2 separate regions of the Homo sapiens genome follow, and region 1 is reported to be linked to region 2. Evidence: microRNA targets listed by miRTarBase, many of them from high-throughput screens and not tested one by one. Region 2 holds a microRNA gene; the other region holds the end of a gene's coding sequence.

What was found. Region 2 holds the annotated microRNA hsa-miR-296-3p (GAGGGUUGGGUGGAGGCUCUCC, at 5,222-5,243, shown strand). A microRNA usually pairs through its seed, bases 2 to 8, with sites in the 3' UTR of a target mRNA and lowers its output. Matches are read on the target gene's strand: a 7mer-m8 pairs with bases 2 to 8, a 7mer-A1 pairs with bases 2 to 7 and ends in A, and an 8mer does both.
Region 1: the mRNA of NAT14 is a reported target of hsa-miR-296-3p. The part of its 3' UTR that is shown has no 7-base or 8-base seed match.

The regions. Positions count from the first base shown.
Region 1 is chr19:55,485,054-55,494,376 of GRCh38, forward strand. NAT14 (N-acetyltransferase 14 (putative)) reads left to right here and starts at 135. Exons shown (of 3, transcript NM_020378.4): 1 at 135-205; 2 at 608-727; 3 at 1,355-2,513. The coding sequence starts at 656. The coding sequence ends at 1,903. SSC5D (scavenger receptor cysteine rich family member with 5 domains) reads left to right here and starts at 3,383. Exons shown (of 14, transcript NM_001144950.2): 1 at 3,383-3,561; 2 at 3,953-3,979; 3 at 4,301-4,609; 4 at 4,829-4,942; 5 at 5,245-5,355; 6 at 5,719-6,027; 7 at 8,542-8,859. The coding sequence starts at 3,537. RefSeq lists a silencer at 1-344 and an enhancer at 445-774.
Region 2 is chr20:58,813,546-58,822,868 of GRCh38, reverse strand. MIR296 (microRNA 296) reads left to right here and starts at 5,175; the gene lies at 5,175-5,254. MIR298 (microRNA 298) reads left to right here and starts at 4,556; the gene lies at 4,556-4,643. It also overlaps GNAS-AS1. RefSeq lists an enhancer at 9,174-9,323.

The DNA.
Region 1 (9,323 bases), not on the chromosome of region 2:
TAGGAGAGGTCGCTTCCCGGCCCTCCGCAGGGTCACAGCTCGGTTCCTCCCAGCCCGCCCTCCGGGGAGCTTAGCAACGGTTGCTACGGCCCGGAGCGGGCGCCGCCCCGCCCCACCGCGCGCGGTCTGACGTCACTTCCGCCCGCGACCCCCTTCCAGACCCGCTCCCGAAACCTTGTCGAAGGACCAAAGGCGACCGGTGCAGGTGCTTGCTGGTCCTTGTTCTTGTGGCGCGGGACGGGGACGACTGTGGGGGAGGGGGCGCTGGGGACCGGGGTGGAGCGAGCGTGGTCCGTTCTCTGGCATGTGGGGAGGGTGTTCGTGGACCCCAGTGCCTGGGAGGGAGCCCCGTGCTGCAGTGTTGGCGTCCGCAGCGCGTTTGGGAGTGTAGATCGCTGAATAATACGGGGGAGGGGGGATCCCGGGAGACTTTAGCAAGGTCGCTGAGTATTGTGGGGGGCGCCTGTCCTGCCGAGATCCTCGCTTGGGGGCCCCGAGGGTTCTCAGTGTCCTGATCTGGGAAGTGCCGTTGCTGCTCCCTACCCCTCGGGGGAGCTTTGGGGACAGAGGTGCCCCCCTGACGCTGACCTACTTATGTTCTCACCAGGTGCACGACGCCAGCTCCCTTCTGGGGGGCCGGGGCCTGGGGGTTGCCATGGCCCCCAGCCACCTGTCAGTGCGGGAGATGAGGGAAGATGAGAAGCCCCTGGTGCTGGAGATGCTGAAGGTGAGAGGCAGGGGCCCCAGGGGGCCTGGGAGTGGCTGCAGTGGGGGAATTGCAAGTGGATTCAGCCACCCCCTCCCACCCACCTGAGCCAGCCTGGACCCCTGGAGCGGGATCTTTTCCTCCTGAGCCTCAGCCGCCCTGCTGCTGAAAACCACAGCAGGTGTGGCAGGTGGGGGCTCACCCCCCCAGCCCTACTGGGACCCCAGCACCAACGCCCTCCCTGGTCTCCCATCTCCAGTCGGCTGTGCACGCCAGCACAACAGCCAGCTCTGTGCCTCGGACCCCAACTCTTCAAAGCACAGCCCAGCACCCCAACCTAGCCCAGCAGCCTCCCTCCAGCCTCCACTCCAGCCTGAGGCAACCTCCCTGTCCTTACTTCCCTGGGGCCTCACTGCGGCATTGCTACTGAATTGAGTGCCCCCACAGCTCCTAATTCACTCATCCATCCATCATTCGCTCTCGTTCATTCATTCACTCCATACCCAGTGTGCCACACTGAACATCGGACTGTGCTGCCTTCCCTTCCCATTTGGGAGCTCTCACCCCGCCCCGGGCAGGGTCTACCTCCTCTCTTTGTCCAGGAGGCCCTAGCGTTTCGGATGGCTGAGCCACCCCTCCTGCCCACAGGCCGGCGTGAAGGACACGGAAAACCGCGTGGCCCTCCATGCCTTGACACGGCCGCCGGCCCTGCTCCTCCTGGCGGCGGCCAGCAGCGGCCTGCGCTTTGTCCTGGCTTCCTTCGCCCTGGCCCTCCTCCTGCCGGTGTTCCTGGCTGTGGCCGCCGTGAAGCTGGGCCTGCGGGCCCGATGGGGCTCGCTGCCTCCGCCGGGTGGCCTGGGGGGCCCCTGGGTGGCCGTGCGGGGCTCCGGTGACGTGTGTGGGGTCCTGGCTCTGGCCCCTGGCACAAATGCAGGGGACGGGGCCCGGGTCACCCGCCTGTCTGTCTCTCGCTGGCACCGCCGCCGGGGCGTGGGCAGGAGGCTGCTGGCCTTCGCGGAGGCCCGGGCTCGGGCCTGGGCTGGGGGCATGGGGGAGCCCCGGGCCCGGCTCGTGGTCCCCGTGGCTGTGGCCGCCTGGGGGGTGGGAGGGATGCTGGAGGGCTGTGGCTACCAGGCCGAGGGGGGCTGGGGCTGCCTGGGCTACACGCTGGTGAGGGAATTCAGCAAAGACCTGTGAAGCTACAGACTGACAGCCAGGGCAGGGGAGGAGGGAGGGGCGCCAGCACCTGATGATCGCCTACTGTCTGCGGGTTCTTTTACCTGCTCTCCCTCAGTGAGTCCTCAACCACCCTGGGCCCAGAAACAGAGGCCTGCCGAGGGGAGGAGCCTGGCCTCTGTCCACCCGTCAGCAGTGTGAAGTCTGTTGTGTTTGAGCTTCTCAGAGTGGAATGACTCCTTTTCCTTCCTGGCCCTCGGGGGCCTCTCGAGGTCAGCCTCTCCAACCCCTACCTCAGCTCCTGTCTGCACTGAGAAACCTCCCCGGGTGATGTCTGCAAAGTCTGTGCTGTCCGTGCCCCAGGCTGGGAGAGCTATCTGGGGAGGGGGAGAGGAGGCCGAGCAGAATACACCCCAGAGTTAGGGTTTGCGACTCCGCCTCCCTGGGACCTGGATTGGGTCAGATGCCTGTCCTTGGAGGGGACAAGGTTGACTGCTTAGGAGGCGCGACGCACAGGGCTGCCAGGCCTGGCCCCTCTCTGGGAAGGTTGAGAGCTGAGACGGGCAGCCCTGTCCCTTCCTCCAGATCCGTCTGGTTTTTTACACCGTTTGTTAATAAAGCCTGAAACCGCTGTGTGCCTGTCTCTTCTCTGATGGCTTTCCCAGTCTGTCTCCGGACACCCCCGCCCATTTCTGTCTGGCTTCTCCTTTCCCCAGTTAACATTAATTGTTGGGGGACGGTGCTGGACTGGGAGAAGGGGAGGCTGTGAGCTCAGGGGCAGCCCGAGGCCCTGCCAGCCCTTCTGAGTCACGCTCCCCATTACCGAATTTTTTCCGCCTCACAGCTGCCTGGTGTGCAGGCAGTGGGGTGTGTGTGTGTGTGTGTGAGTGTGTGGAAGAGTGTGTGGAGCCCCTCCCCTTCCCAAGCCTTGACCCTTGTGCTGCTTATCCCCCGACCCCAGCTCCCTCTGGGACAGTGAAGTTCAACCTCTCCTCTCTCAGCTGGGGACTGGGGGCTTCACACTCAGATCCACCAGTGAGTGGGAGGACTGGAGGGCCGGGTCTTTCAGTCTCTTTTCCTAACCCAGGAAGTCCCTCCTGGTGTCTGGCTGCAAATCTTCTTGCTGCTGCACCAAGAACCCCAGGTCTGCCCAGCCCCCAACCCTAGCAGTGGTCTCACTGGATTTCCCTGACCAGACAAGAGGGGAGACAGCAGGTGGGCGCCCCTCCCGCTCATGCTGCGCCCCCCCCGCACACGTCCCCCAACCCCTGTCCTGTGCCTTCCTGCAGCCGGCCACCCCCTAAGCATCTCTGGGCACAGCACTTTGCTGGCTGGAGCCTGCCTGGCCGTCGTCTCCATCTCCCGTGTGGGTGTCTGCAGTTGGACACCCTCCCTCCCGCCCGCCACCCCCCTCCCCCCCATGCCTCAGCAGACGGCCAGCCCCCTCCCGCCCCCCCTCCCCCCCACCGTCCCCTGCCGCCTCCCTGCAGCCTCTTTCTTCCTCCTGGCAAAGCGTCCAGCCCTGCCTGCTCCTCCTCGGGCCTGGGCGCCTCCAGCAGGCACTTCCCTCCCTCCCTCTCTCCCCAGCTGCCTCCTCCTCTTCTCTCCCCGCTCTCCTTCCCCTTTCACCCCATCCCCTGCCCTGGCTGCAACCATGAGGGTCTTGGCCTGCCTCCTTGGTGAGTGATCCATTCTCCTTGGGGACTCGGGGGGCCTAGGCCCCCACCTCTGACCCCTTAGCTTGTCCAGTTTAGGGACTCAAACTTCCGGGACTGGTCGCTGGTGCTCCTGCATACCCTGACATCCCTTCTGAGGATCCCTGCTCAATCTGCCCAGCCTTCTGCCAGCCCAGAAGCCCAAGGGACCTGCCCCCTGCCCGCCCCCCAGCCCTGACCCTGCGGGGGATCTCCCAGACATCTGACCTTTAGCCAAGCCCATGTGTGTGTGTGTGTGTGTGTGTGTGTGTGTGTGTGTGTGTGTTGGGGTATTCAAGATGAGGGGCCTGCGCTGGAGAAAGGGCCACCCCCGGCCTGCCCCTCACACTGCCCCACCCTCCGCCCTCCCTTCCAGCGGCCCTGGTGGGGATCCAGGCTGTTGGTAAGTGCCCAGACTCCTCCCATCTGCCCGCCCCCCCCCCCAGGCCTCCCCCTTCTGCCCATCCAGGCCTGGCCTCACCCCCACTGGGTCCCCGGCCCATCCGAATTCCACTGTGACCTTGGCCCCAGCTCCGCAAGGGAATCCCCCAGGTGTCTGGCCGCATCTCTCTGAGCACCCAGGAGTCTGGGCCCAGGGGCCAGTGAGCAGGGCCACTGGCCTACAGACAGTACCTGCAGGACAGCCACCTGCCCCTACAGTTGCCCTGGCCTTGGGGCCCCCAGGATGCCCCTCCCCAGTCACAGCCATTCCTCCAACCCTCAGAGCGCCTGCGCCTGGCCGATGGCCCCCATGGGTGCGCTGGCCGCCTGGAGGTCTGGCATGGCGGGCGCTGGGGCACCGTGTGTGATGACGGCTGGGACCTGCGCGATGCCGCCGTGGCCTGCCGGCAGCTGGGCTGCGGAGGGGCACTGGCCGCCCCGGGAGGCGCCTTCTTCGGGGAGGGGGCAGGGCCTGTGTGGCTCAGCGAGCTGGCTTGCCGGGGCAACGAGGGGCAGCTGGGCCTCTGCCACCACCGGGGCTGGAAGGCCCACATCTGCTCCCACGAGGAGGACGCGGGCGTCGTCTGCGCAGGTGAGGACACCCTGGCTGCTCCTTCAGGGGGAGCTCCTTTGGAGATGACCCAGGAACCCCAAGTCCTTAGCCCCAGCAAGTCTGAGTGTTCAGCAGTTCAGAGACACCCAACCTCCCATCCCCTCCAAAGCCAGGTGGCTAACTCCCTCTTCCAGGGACCCAAATGGCCTGGATTCCCCTCCTCTCCTCATAGCTTCTGTCCCTGCCCCCCCGCCGCAGGTCAGCGTGTGGCTAACTCCAGGGACGACTCAACATCTCCCCTGGATGGGGCTCCCTGGCCAGGGCTGTTGCTGGAGCTGAGCCCCAGCACGGAGGAGCCCCTGGTGACACATGGTGAGCCCAGGGGACTGCCCTGCCAACCCCCACCCAGCGTGCCCTCCTGCCCCCCCCGAGGGGAGAGGGACTGCCCTGCCAACCCCCACCCAGCGTGCCCTCCTGCCCCCACCGAGGGGAGAGGGACCTCTGCAGTATGAACTCCCAGGGGACACACAGCCCGCCCCCTGCCCCGCCCCGTCTCCTTCATAGCCTAGGGAGTCCTCCATCACTTCAGACCCTCAGAGACGGAGGCCTGGGCCCCCAGGTGGGAGGAAGGATGAGGGGCTCAGCTCCTGACCCCTGGCTGTCTCCACTCCCAGCCCCCCGCCCAGCTGGGAACCCCCAGAACGCCTCCCGGAAGAAGAGCCCCCGGCCCAAGCAGGCCAAGTCCACCCGGGCCCCTCTGCTGACGACAGGAGCCCCCCGCCAAGGTAAGCTCCCTGCAGGCTCCCCCGACCCCAAGGCTGGTTGCTGTGAGGCCCAGGGCCCAGAAAAACTGAGGACCTGCGGGCGCCCTCTCCTTAGCCGGGGCCCTGGAGGGATCCCAGTGTTCCCCGCGTCCCTCCCCCGGGGATTTAGACGGCCAGGCCTGGTCTCCCCTCTTCTTCCTGCCCTGTCAGGAGGCCCAGGTGTCCTGGCCCGCTCAGGTCGTGGACTCACCTCTTCACGGGCTGCCGGCGGACAGATCTCAGGCCACCGCTCCCTCAGGCCTGTTTCCCCAGGTGGAAATCGAGGAAGGGGTGTTTGAATCATTTCTCACTGGCCACACCGTCCCCTCCCTGCTCACCCCACAGAGCGGCTGCGCCTGGTCTCTGGCCCCCACAGGTGCGCCGGACGCCTGGAGGTCTGGCACGGCGGGCGCTGGGGCACCGTATGTGACGATGGCTGGGACCTGCGCGACGCTGCTGTAGCCTGCCGGGAACTGGGCTGTGGGGGGGCGCTGGCTGCCCCCGGCGGTGCCAGATTCGGGCCTGGTGCAGGGCCCGTGTGGATGGACGATGTGGGGTGTGGAGGAGGAGAACAGGCCCTCCGAGACTGCCCCCGAAGCCCCTGGGGCCGGAGCAACTGTGACCACAGCGAGGATGCGGGGCTGGTCTGCACCGGTACGTCGGGCTGGGGCCTGGCCCCCTCCTGTCTTCCTCAGACCCCAGCTCCCTCTTGCCCCTCCAGGAAGCTGCAGCGGGCCTGCTCCCAGCTCTGCCTCCTGCCCGCCTGCTCTCTGCATGCCCAGCGCCCACTCACCACGCTCTCCAGCCCCTCCTTCCACAGCTCCTGCCGTTCTCCTTGCCAGGAATGGGAGGAGCAGGCTTGAGGCTTGGGCTAGTGCTCAGCCCTGTCCCGGGGCCTAGGCCAGTGACCGTTTGTTTAAGCCTCAGTTTTCCTGAAGGAGCGATGGAGCTAAGAATGCCTGCCTCAGGCTTGAGCCAAGTCCTGGAACGCAAGAAGCCCTGCCTGCCCTCTGCCACCGGGCTGGCCATGGCAGGGGACCGTCTCGGAGACCTCTTGTCTCTGTGGCCAACCTCTGCTCCTTCCCCATCCTCAAGGGAGCTGGTGGGAAGGAGGGAGGGAGGGCGGTGACTTGGGGGCATGGAGGGAGACTGAGGCAGGGTGGGGACACCCACGGGTGAGCCTCCATCTCCCCTCATTCACGCCCCCTCAGCGCGGGGTCTCCTCCCCTCATGTCTCCCAGGGGGTCCCTCCCCTCTCCTGTACCCCTTGGACCTGGGATAGAACCCAGCAAACAGCGGTTGGGGGGTGTTAGGTGAGAGCTCAGGGGCTCCCTCCCTCCTTCTCTCCTTCCTTCCTTCCTCCCTCTTTCCCTTTCTCTTTCCTTTCTTTCCTTCCACAAATCTTTACACACCACCACGGCAGGCCCCACCCTGCTGGACTGCCCGATCCATTGACTGTAGGAGGCCGGCAGGCAGAGGGCACCCACCTGGCATTTCATCAGCGTTGGGGTGGGGACAGTACACGGGCTGCAGGCAAAGCTGGGTGCCTGCCCAGGATGGGTAGGAAATGCTGACATCAGTGGGTATCCAGGGGGGAGAGAAGAGAGAAAGAGGCTGACCCTAGTCTCTGCTGTATGCTGGGCCCTGCGCTGTGCACGTTACCTGGGGCCGCTCTGAGCCTCCCGCAGCCCGGACGGGGTGGATCCTCATCCCTCTCTTCACAGATGTGGGGCCGAGGCTCAGAGAGGTGACGTAAATGGCCCAAGACCCAGGTGCCTAGCAAGCTCCAGCCCCAGCCGCTGACCCCTCTGGGTCTGTATAGACCCACGCTCCATGCCTGTCCCACTGCACAGTCGGCCATAGGGACGTGGTGGGGACACGGAGGTCAGAGTGGGAGTGAGCAGCAGAGAAGGCTTGTATGGGGTGGGGGTGGTGCCTTCGTGTGCCTAGTGTACAAGCTGTGGGGGAAGAAGTGGGACCTTCGGAGCAGAGTTCATTGGAGGGAAGTTGAGGCTCTGGAGAGGAGAGGGTGAAGGTGCCAAGAAAGGAAACAAATGAACTAAGGCGCCCGGTGAAGCTGGGAGCTTCGCCAGCATCTGATTTAATTCTCATGGCAACCCCGGGAGGGAGACGCTCCCCTCCCCTGTCTGCAGATGAGGAAAAGCAGACAGGTGTGTTAGACTCCTCCCTAGTTCTGTGCTCTTCTCTAGAACAGTGATTGGGGGCAATTCTGCACCTGCCTCGTTGGGGGACAGAGAGAGGGACTCCAGAGTCCTCCAATGATGAGTCAACTCTTACCCCAACAGAAATGTACCCGAAGAGCCAGGCATGGTTACAGGCTAACACCTGTAGCCCACGTGCTTTGGGAGGATTTCTTGAGGCCAGGAGTTCAAGACCAGTCTGGGCAACATAGTGAGACCCTTTCCCTACAAAATATAAAATAAAAAAAAAATAGCAGGGCATGGTGGCGCATGCCTGTAGTCCCAGCTACTTGGGAGAGGCTGAGGCGGGGAGGATTCCTTGGGTCCAGGAGGTCGAGACTGCAGTGAGCCAAGATTGCACCATTGCACTCCAGCCTGGGTGACATAGTGAGATCCCCTCCCCCCAAAAATAAAAAAATGAAATGTACCCTATGTATCCTAAGGCCAGCGAGAGGTTAATATCTAGACTAGTGGCTCTCAGCTGGCAAGGGAGTGAGGGCTTTCTCATCCCCTTCCTCCCCAAAGGACATCAGGCAATGTCTGGAGACGTTTTTGGTTGTCGCAGCTAGGGGGAGGGGTTGCCACTGGCATGTGGTGGGTAGAGGATGCAGTGCAGGACAGTTGCCACGATAAAGGAGGATGCCCAATGCCAGTGGTGCTGAGACTTGGAAATCCGGCTCTCTAGGATCCGAGGGGCCAGGCATGGGAGGTGGATCCAGGGGACCAGAGCCAGAGCTCCCAGCGTCCCCAGCCCCCACCGCCCCAAGGCAAGGGATATGGGGGATGCGCCAGAGTTGGACTCCGGGCCAGTGACTTCCTGTCTTGGAACCTTTTCCTCATTTGGATAGTGAAGATGGAATATTTGCTTCCCAGAGTCATCTTGGGGTTGCAGCCTGCCTGAGCATAGCTTAGTCCCCGCTCATCCACCCTCGTTTCCTGGCCCTGTGCTCCCTCTCCCACTATCCAGGCCCAGCACCTCGGCTGCGCCTGGCCGATGGCCCCCACGGGTGCGCCGGCCGCCTGGAGGTCTGGCACGGGGGTCGCTGGGGGTCGGTGTGTGACGACGCCTGGGACCTGCGAGACGCCGCTGTGGCCTGCCGAGAGCTGGGCTGCGGAGGGGCGCTGGCCGCCCCCGGGGGCGCCTTCTTTGGGGAGGGGTCTGGACCCATCATCCTGGACGACCTTCGGTGTCGGGGAAACGAGACGGCCTTACGATTCTGCCCAGCTCGGCCCTGGGGCCAGCATGACTGTCACCACCGCGAGGACGCCGGGGCCGTGTGTGACGGTGAGGGGGTTGTGGTGGAGGACCGGGAGGTGGGCGTGGTGGTGCTTGGAGCGGAGGGGCAAGTTCGGCGGGGGCGGGGGGGTCCCTACGCGCCCTTCCTGCCCTCTCTCCGGACTTTCCACTCCCCCATCTTATTCCCCTCTGAATCCTCACCCTGCGTCACTGGTTCTCAGCTGGGGGTGGCTTTGCCCCCAAGGGGACATTGGACAGTGTTTGGAAACATTTTTGATGGTCACAGCTGGGGGTGGGGGTGCTCCTGGCACCCAGGGGTTAGAGGCCAGGGGTGTTGCTTAGGATCCTGCAGTGCACAGGCCGCCTCCACAGCTGAGAACAGTCCAGCCCCAAATGGAAACAGAGGCGAGGATGAGCCTCAGCCCCGTGGCAGCCCTGGCTGGCCCTGCCTCCTGGCCCCCGGCGGAAGCCAGCCTTCTCCTCTGCATAAGGTCACCCCCCGCTTCTCTGCC
Region 2 (9,323 bases):
CTGGTGGTTCAGGGCCCTGTTGTGGCATCAGAGAGATGTGAGCGCTAACCTCAGCACCCTGCTTTCCACTCCGGGGCCTTGGGGCGACTTATTTATCTGCCAAGGCAGTTTCCTGACTTCAGGGAAGGGGCCAGGAGAGAATTAAGTAAGAACAAGCAGCACCTGACACTCAGAAAAGTGTCCCTAAATGTTCGCCACCTTTATTAATAGTACAAATTAATGGGTGACCAGCCTCCATTGTGGGATGGAGCCGGAAGCTGCTCTCCAGGCCTGCTCTCACCCAGATACATGGTATGTTTCGACCACACAGGAGTTCTTTTAAGGATGAATGATGATGACCGCCAACGTTTAGGTGTCCGCAGATTTTACAGAAGCCTTTGGCCATTTGACTTCTCCTGGTCTAGTGGAGCCTCTAGTTTTCTGGGGCCTGCCTCTTCCTGTCCATAGACAACCGTAGCTGGGGTGCGGCCGCCCCCTTTCGGCCAGCAGCACACACACCCCTGTGCCTGCCACCACTTGTGCCTGTCACTCATCTCTGAGTGGGGCCTGGCCTCCTTAGGCATTTGCACTTGTTCTCCCTGCAGTAAAGTGGAGCTATTATTATCTTATAAGAAACAAGGGTCATCATCAGAATTGGGCAGGGACCCAGCAACTGAGTTCTGGCCGGGGCCTCCTTGCCTTTGCTGTGACATTGGTCTGGAAGACCTGGGCTGATGGATGAGCATTGAATGGCCGGGTCTGGGGAGCCATCATGGCTGCCTGCCTTCCTCCTGGTGGGCCCCTTAGTAAGCTGAGCAGAAACACAAAATGGCTAGGGCAGTTACCATAGCCACTTAACGTCTGTGCATCCCTCGGCCTCCCTCATTCTCGTCGGGATAGGGATGACTTAGGAAAGCCAGAGGAGGCCCAGGCTGCTATGAAACCTGGGCCTTGCTTTTCAGCACAAGGATTTCAAGAGGAGAGGAGGTGAGGGAGGAGGGGAGTTTCTGTTGGGGCTGTTGTGGGCCTCAGGCGGCCCCTGAGTTAATCCGTATTCGTATTCAGAATTCCCTCCTTTTCCTTAGTGGGTCAGAGTTCTCTCTTGCTCATCCAGGCCTCAGAGAAGAATCCATGGTAGTTGTGACCACAGCTAGGCCTTAACTCCTTCAGAGCCATGTACATGAAGGCTCAGAAGATCCCCTCATCTTCTGAAGAAGTGTGAGTCTCCTCCTGTAGGCTTCCAAGGGACGCTAGGGTTAGCCATACTTGCACAGCCTGCCCCACACTCAGGCTTCTTGGCACAGAGAAGCCCTTCCTCTTACTGATTTATGGTGCCTACCATGTTCTAGGCATTAGAGAAATGCATTAATTTACTCTTCATAGCAAACATATGGGAAAACTGAGGTACGCACAGGTCAGATAGCTTGCCCAAGGCCACACAGCAGGAAAATCGTGGAGTCCGGATTTGAACTCCAGTGGCTGGTCAGGCTCCAGAGGTCGCCTTTCAAATGCTGCCTGGAAAATGATGGAGCTGATGGAGGAGTCCGAGGTGATGGCTCTGGTGAGTCAGGAGCCTGCCAAGTCACAGGAGCTGGGGAAAGAGCACACTGGACAGAGGGGACAGCCAGTGGAAGGGCCCTGAGGTGGGAAAGAGCTGGCCATGAGCTGTAGGGAAGCAGGAAACCAGTCTGGCTGCAGGAAGTGAGCAGGGGCCAGGGAAGGAGCTGGGGTAGCTGAGGAGGCAGCACCATAAGGGCAGCCCACGGCCATGGCACTGGGGTCTGATTGCAAGTGCAGCGGGAAGCCCTGAGGCTTCTGAGCAGGGCCCTGCTGGCTTGAAGGTCTCCCTGACTAGGAGATGGGATTCTTGTGGCAAGAAGAGAGCGGGGAGAGCAGGAGCTGAGCTGCCCCACATTGGGTAGCTGGGGTCTTTTCACTGAAGGGGATCTGATATGGTTTGGCTCTGTGTCCCCACCCAGATCTCATCTTGAATTGTAACTCTCACAATTCCCACGTGTCATGGGAGGAACTGGGTGGGAGGTGATTGAAGTATGGGGGTGGGTCTTTCCTGTGCTGTTCTCATGATAGCGAGTCTCATGAGATCTGATGGTTTTAAAAAACGGGAGTTTGCCTGCGCAAGCGCTCTCTCTCTTTGCCTGCTGCCATCCATGTAAGATGTGACTTGCTCCTCCTTGCCTTCTGCCATGATTGTGGGGCTTCCCCAGTCACATGGAACTGTAAGTCCAATTAAACCTCTTTCTTTTGTAAATTGCCCAGTCTCAGGTTTGTTTTTATCAGCAGTGTGAAAACGGACTAATACAGGGTCCATCTGGGAGAGGCTGCCTTTCTCTGAGGCCTCTGGCTTGGCAGTGTAGAGAAGGTTCACTAGTGCTTCTGGAATCTTCCTTGGCCCTTTGGGACTCAGCCTATAGTCAGAGCTGGTTCCTTAGGCCTTAGGTGGGGCACCCTTGGAGAGCTCCCTCGGGTAGGTGTCCAGGTGCCAGGTATGGCTCCGGTTACTGTGGTGCCTCCCTCCCTTCGTCTACCTGGTGCTTCTAGAGGCTCGGCTCAGCCTCGTCTTGGCAGCTGGGCCAGGAGGCAGGGCTCTGTGGGTTTCCCATGTATATTTCTTGATAGGTGAGAAAGTGAGCCCCACCTGTGTGGCTCAGCGGTCAGCACCTAAGGCCGCATCTCCAGTTCCACGACAGAAACACCAGGTCATGTGCATGGGTGGCTGGCGCACACCATCAACACCGTGAAGGCATCTCTTTGCCATTCCTGGTGCCCCCACTGGAGCGGGCGTCTGAACTCTGGAGATTGAGAACCTGGGGGCTCTGGTGGGGCACAGAGTGCCCAAGCCCCTCCCCACTAGATGGCACGGCCGCAGAGGCAGTACGGATGAGCATTCAGCACCCCTTTTCTGGGAGGGTCACCTGGGGCGGGGTGCGAGGACCCCTTTGCCCTGGGCACCTGTTGGACCTGAGTCCGGGTCCCAGCTGTTCTACCTCACACTGAGGTCGTGGTCACCTGTGTGGGTCTGGGTTTTTTGTCCGTGACAAAGGTTGGGACCAGAGGTAGATGGGTTTGCCTGCTCTATTGTTTCATGATGGAAACAATCCTGGTTGGTTGCCTGGTTTCTGCTTGGGTTCCCATTCCTTGCCCCGGCCCTACAGGATCAGTGGAGCACCATAGCCCTGCCTCCTTTCTCTGGCCAGCCAGAGGGCTTCAGAAAAGGCTTATCTAAGCCTGGCTTCTTGCCCTCTGTTCTTGAGGGCCCTGAAGAATTTGACTCTGGCAGATGGCTTCTCTCAGATCAGACACAAAGGCCTTGGAGATTGGGACTCCACACCCATTTCATTGAAACCTGCTCTCCCCCCATCAGAAAAAGGGCCATGTTTTCAAAACCATAACTGCTTCTCTCTTAAATCAACAATAAACAACAGCCTAAAGATTGCCCGTGAAAGTAAGTTCCACTGATGGCCGTTCTGGCCGTTGGAAGCAAGATATCAAGTTGGAGTGTGACCGCAGGCGATCATGCCGCAGGTGAGTGTGTGTGCGCCTGGTTTCATTTCTGTTGTTAATCCTTTGCCCTGTTTTTCTCTTTGTTTTTATTCCAAACCTGTCTGCTCCCAAGGGTCCCTGTCTGCTTCCAAGGGTCCCTGGAACCTTCTGCAGCTGTGCCTCTCCAGAGCTCCGCCTCATTAGTGCCACGTTCCTGGTTTGAAAACCATAGTACTTCAACCTCTTCTAGATGGGAGTTAACCTTTGCCCTCTGAAAGAAAGGTTTGATAAGCAAAGAGAGTTTGGTGAGCAAGATCCTTGAGGTAAGAGCTGATCTCTGACGTCCGCTGGGAACTGGCTGCTCTGCAGGTTTCTGTATCACATTTTCTGCACATGTCCATTAGAATTGGAGATGGGGCGTATCTAGTGTTGAATAAAGGCCCGGCAGGCCCTCCCAGATGCACCCTGTCAGACAGAGCCTACTGTGGATTCTTTAGAAATGGCTTGACTCATTCTTGGTGGCGACCACACCACCCACAGGCACCTAAAATGAAAGGATTTTTGTTAGCTGGTTACCACCAAACCACCTCAGGCAATACGTGGGAGACTCCAAACCAGCTGCTGTTAAAAAAAAAAAAAAGGCAGCAGAGCAGTCATAGAACAGACCCTTCTTACTGCTGCATACAAGATGATCCCATGGAATGCAGGCAGCCACAGCTTTGTCCACATGTGCTCTGTGTATCTGGGGCTGCTAGGCTGGTTAGATTTGTGGTCTTCTTCCTCCTGTGGAGGACCCTAGAGAGAGCCAGCCTGAGCCCTCACCGTTGTTCCTTCCCCGGCAGCACTTACAGAATGATCCTCTAAGACCTCCCCTCCAGCCCTAGCTGGGTTCCTAATTTTCCAGCTATTTAATATCTTCTTTATGTCTCAGTGAATGTTCCCAGGCAGAGTAGCCAGACAGACTCATACTGACAGTTCTCAACAGCCAGTCCCATCCTCCTAAAGATCTCCAGAATCAGCCACATGGACCTGATGCTAGAGGCCTGTCAGCACTGGGGGACCCGGGAGAAGCAGCTCAGGTCTTCAGCAGAAGCAGGGAGGTTCTCCCAGTGGTTTTCCTTGACTGTGAGGAACTAGCCTGCTGCTTTGCTCAGGAGTGAGCTGCCGGCTCCCCTTTGATGTGCTGCGTCTGTTCAGAACTAGGCAGGGGTGCTTCACCGTGGCAGCACTTGAGTTAGGCAGTGGTTCATGGACTCTTCTCCCAGGGCCCCACACAAAACACTGTTAGCACAGACCTGCCACTCAGATCAAGGTGGCCAGCAGAGCCATCAGAGAATAGCCTTCAGAAGATGAATGGCAAGGCCAGCCGGCAGCACGTGAGGCCAGGGCAGAGACGCAGTGAACCGTTCCATGGCGCCCCGAGCCTGCTGCCAAGGCCTCCTTGGAGCTGAGATGGAGGCGGGGTGGCTGAGAGGCAAGCTGGATGTGCATGTTTGGGAAGAGGGCTCCGTAGAAAGTGCTGTAGGGGCCTTGGCTGGGGACCACGTGAGCCCTTGTGCGGAGAGGGCCTGTGTCTGTGGATCTGGGGTCCACCACAGGCCACTGAGATGGGACAGGGCTGGGAGGATTGAGGAGGGAAGATCCTGAGTGAAATTGTGAAATCAGGCCCAGCCTCATGTGGGAGGTGAGGAGAAAGGACCCTTCCAGAGGGCCCCCCCTCAATCCTGTTGTGCCTAATTCAGAGGGTTGGGTGGAGGCTCTCCTGAAGGGCTCTGAAGAGCGCTGCACCCGCAGCTGTGTGCCAGGAGTGGAGACAGGACAGTCGATACAAGAGGGGCCCCTGTCATGTCAGCTGCTGAGTCCCCTGGGGCGGCCGGGCACTGGGGAATGGTGAACTCGCCGTGCCGCGCCTCTGCCACAGTCTCCCGTGGGTCCCCACTGCCGGGAGTTTTACCTACCTCCCACCCTCAGCCACGAGCACCTGCAGGATGCGGTGCCATCCTCGCCGGTGCCCGCTCCCCTTCCGGAGGCTCTCTCCACCCTCACTGACGCCTCCTCGGGAAAGCCCCCGCTCCTTCCCCGACCTCACAGCATGCCAGGTCTGGGGCTTCCGCTGGGGGGCTTACCTGTTTTCCACCCCTGCTAGACTGGGAGCTCCAGGGCAAGGCCGTAGCTGCCTTGCGGATTGTTACGTTGTCCAGCTTGTCTCCACACGTGATACCCAGCAGGTGCCTAATAAACTTGTGTAGAAAGAGTGGTGGATGTTTGCTCTTGTATTTACTCTTCATAGAGCCCAGCTCTGCTTGCTAGAGTCCTCGAAGCAAGTGCGCAGTGTCTGACGGTCTTGGGTTGCTTCTGACTCATGGTGGCTGCTTGGGGGTCATGCTGGAAACATGGCACCCTCAACTCCTGCGTGGAACCAGTTGCCCCCACTGTGATTCCTCTTGCTGCGGCTGGCCCTGCCTTCATGGCATTAGCGCAGCGGGGAGTTGCGGGCTCACTGTCTTAACACCTGTCTCCCCCACCAGACTAAACCCCAAAGGGCAGAACTCTCTCATACACTTAGGACGGAGCAGGTCTCAGGTTATTGCTGGACGGACCAATGGATGAGTGGATGGACAGAGCAAAAAGATGAAAAGACAGGAAGGCAACTGGGGTGTGACAGGCAGGGTGGCCTGACGCTCCCTGTGTGGACAAGACTTGGTGGGAGGTGCCGGGCATGGCTAGGAGGACTTGGGGTGCAAAGTGTCCCCACATCTGTCCTGAGGGCAGAAGCAAGGGTGAGCCTCCCTCCTGCTAGAGCTGGCGGAGTCTCCAAAATAGAGTCCGGACCTGCAGGAACAGTGGCCCTTCCCAGTGCAAGAACGTCACTCAGAGTTGAAAGTTCTGGGGTCTCAGGGACCCCTGAAGTCCATTCTTGAGCCCTTCCCGTGGCTGTGGCCTCCCCTTAGGCAGGGGAAAGGGGGCCAGTGGGGAGCTTCCCCAGGGGCCTCTCTGCAGGAGGCCGCTGGGCACATGGTGGCCCCGCGCTGGGCGCTGTCAGCAGAAGTGCCTGGATCCAGACCCTGGTGGAGACAGCAGGCCAGGAAACCAGTGGCCCCTCTGCCCCCCACTGGGGCCCCATGAGTTACACCAGCCAGGCCCCACAGCTGAGGTACCAGGCGGAAAAGGCCTTGTGTGAATGGGGCAAGAGGCCAGGGGCGCTGGGGAAGGCCAGGAAGAGAGCAGAGAGGCCTTCACTCACACGCAAGCGCACGCCCCAGGGGCTCAGGCCTTGAGACATAGCTTGAGGTGGGGGTGTGGGGGGCTCCCTGCTTGTTCCCGCTAAGGCTGGCACCCCAGCCCTCTCTTTTGGGTGTCCCCATGCCTGGGCTGTGCCGTAGCACAGTTCATGGGAGCCCTGCCCCCAGGCCCTGCAGCCCTCACTGCCCCCAGCCCTGCTGCAGGGTTGGCCTCCCTTCTGTCACCCCACCTGCCACTCGCCCCTCTGTCTCGGGAAAACCCACTGTGATTCCTTTCCAAGGCTGACCTTCCTTCTGGTGGCTTCTGCCCCATTCCAGCTCCCCTTTCCCCATGGGATCATTAGACACCGAGCCCTCCCGAGGGCCCAGCCATGTGGGTGGAACACGGCAGTCACAGAAGAGGGAAGAGCCCTTTCTGCATGGAGCTTGCTTCTGGAGGGGAGAGACAGACCACCAACAGGAAGTGGGTGGGCTGTGTCGTGTGTGGAAAAGCGGCATGCTGGGAAATGAAGCGGGGCAGGGGAGCAGCAGCGGCTCTCCCAGGCTTCCCTCCTGCGGCATCTGTGCACCCCAGGCCTTCACCCTAGCACTGCTGACCTTCAGGGCTGCTTCCATCCCTGGTGGGGGCCGTCCTGGGGATTATAGAGTGTTCAGCAGCTCCCCGAGCTAGATGCTAGGAGCCACCACCACCAACGCCAAAAAAAGATAGATGCATTTGCCACCTGGCTGGTTGCTCTCTGTAAACGTGAGCTAAACTGCTGGCCCAGGATCGTTGACATAGAGAAAATCTGTGACTTCCCGGGAGTCCTGGTGATGTGTGATGTGTCGCTTAATACAGAGTCTGGTGGATAGAGAAAGACTTGTCTCCATAGGTGTGCAGAGAGGGTTAGTATATGCCCTTTTATTGCCTGGTTCTTTCCAGGGGCTCCCAGAGGACCTTGAAGCAGTGAGGCCACCCAGGCCTTAGTTGGTGGCGCCATTCTCCCATAAAAGGAACCAGGCTTTTGGTGAAAATCGCTTATTCTGGCTGAGCATGGTGGCTCGTGCCTGTAATCCTAGCACTTTGGGAAGCTGAGATGGGCAGATCACTTGAAGCCAGGAGTTCAAGACCAGCCTGGCCAACATGGTGAAACCCCCATCTCTACTAAAAATACAAAAGTTAGCTGGCCGTGGTGGTGCATGCCTGTAGTCCCAGCTACTCGGGAGGCTGAGGCACAAGAATTGCTTGAACCCAGGAAGTGGAGGTTGCAGTGAGCTGGGATTGCACCACTGCACTCCAGCCTGGGTGACAGAGACCCTGTTTCAAAAAAAAAAAAAAGACTTATTCTTTGGTTGGAGCAAAGACTGCGAGGTGAGCCTGGAGCATCATGTGGTGTCAGGAAGGAAGTACCCCAGCAATGGCGGCAGGTTTCAGGGACACAGGAGCTGACAGAAGGAGCTCCCAAGGGTCACAGCTGGGACATGGGACTAGCAAAGCAGAACTGGACTGTGACCCAATGCATAGAATATCCACAGGTCCAGACTGATATAAATCATTCAATAAGTAGATGGAAGAGACAAATCTCTTGCACAGAATAATTCCAAATAATTCCGGTAGATACTTCCCCTCAAGGAGATAGAACGTAGCTCCCCACCCCTGAAGTATGCACAGTGCTTAGTGACTTGCTTCCAAAGAGTACACATTGAAGGTGGGAAACGGTCTTCACTGAGGAGAAACCTGGGCAGCTGTGTCTTAGCCAGCTGGAGGCCCGTGTCATCAGGGATCCTCCTGTGCCTAATACATACCCTGGATACCACATGGTCTTCCTTCCCCAACTGCATCATCCCAATGTAACCATGAACCAAACATCAGATCACCCGAATTGTGGGACAATCTACAAAATACCTGACTGGCACTCCTCAAAATGGTCAAGGTTATCAAAATCAAGGAAAAGCTGAGAGACTCAGCCAAGCCTGGAGGAGCCTCAGGAGATGTGATGATGAAATGTCACGTAGGCTTCTGGATGGAGTCCTGGAGCACAGAGAGGGCATTAGGGAGAAGCCAGTGATGTCTGCACACTGCGCGGGCTTCAGGCAATACTGTTCATTCGTGGTGACAAATCACATGGCAGTATAAGTGGTAGAACCTGGGTGTTGGAGACACAGAAGCTCGGCACTAGCTTTTCAACTTTTCTGTAAATCTAAAAGTTTAAAATAAAAAGTTTATTTAAAGTGTGTGTGTGTGTGTGTGAGATATAAACAGTTGTGACCCAGCACTCATGAGCTAGGAGTGGTGCAGGCAGACTCTAAACAGAGAAACGGAGGCATCACGCCTTCTGGGAGAGATTGGTGCTACAGAAAAAAACAGGGCTGTGAAATTGCAGCCTGCCCCCAACACCCTCACACCTGATGCTCTGATCTCCCACATGTGAGCCAGGGGAAGAGGAGAGCAGCAGGCAAGGTCAGAGAAGGTGAGTCCCCTGTGGGCCATGGGAGGGACACAGAGATAATGCCCCTCCACCTACATGGTGGGGACATTCTGGGATGAAGGGGTATGGGGGAACATAGCTGCATGTGGAGTGTGTGCACACGTGTGCAGCATTTGTGTGCACATGTATTTGT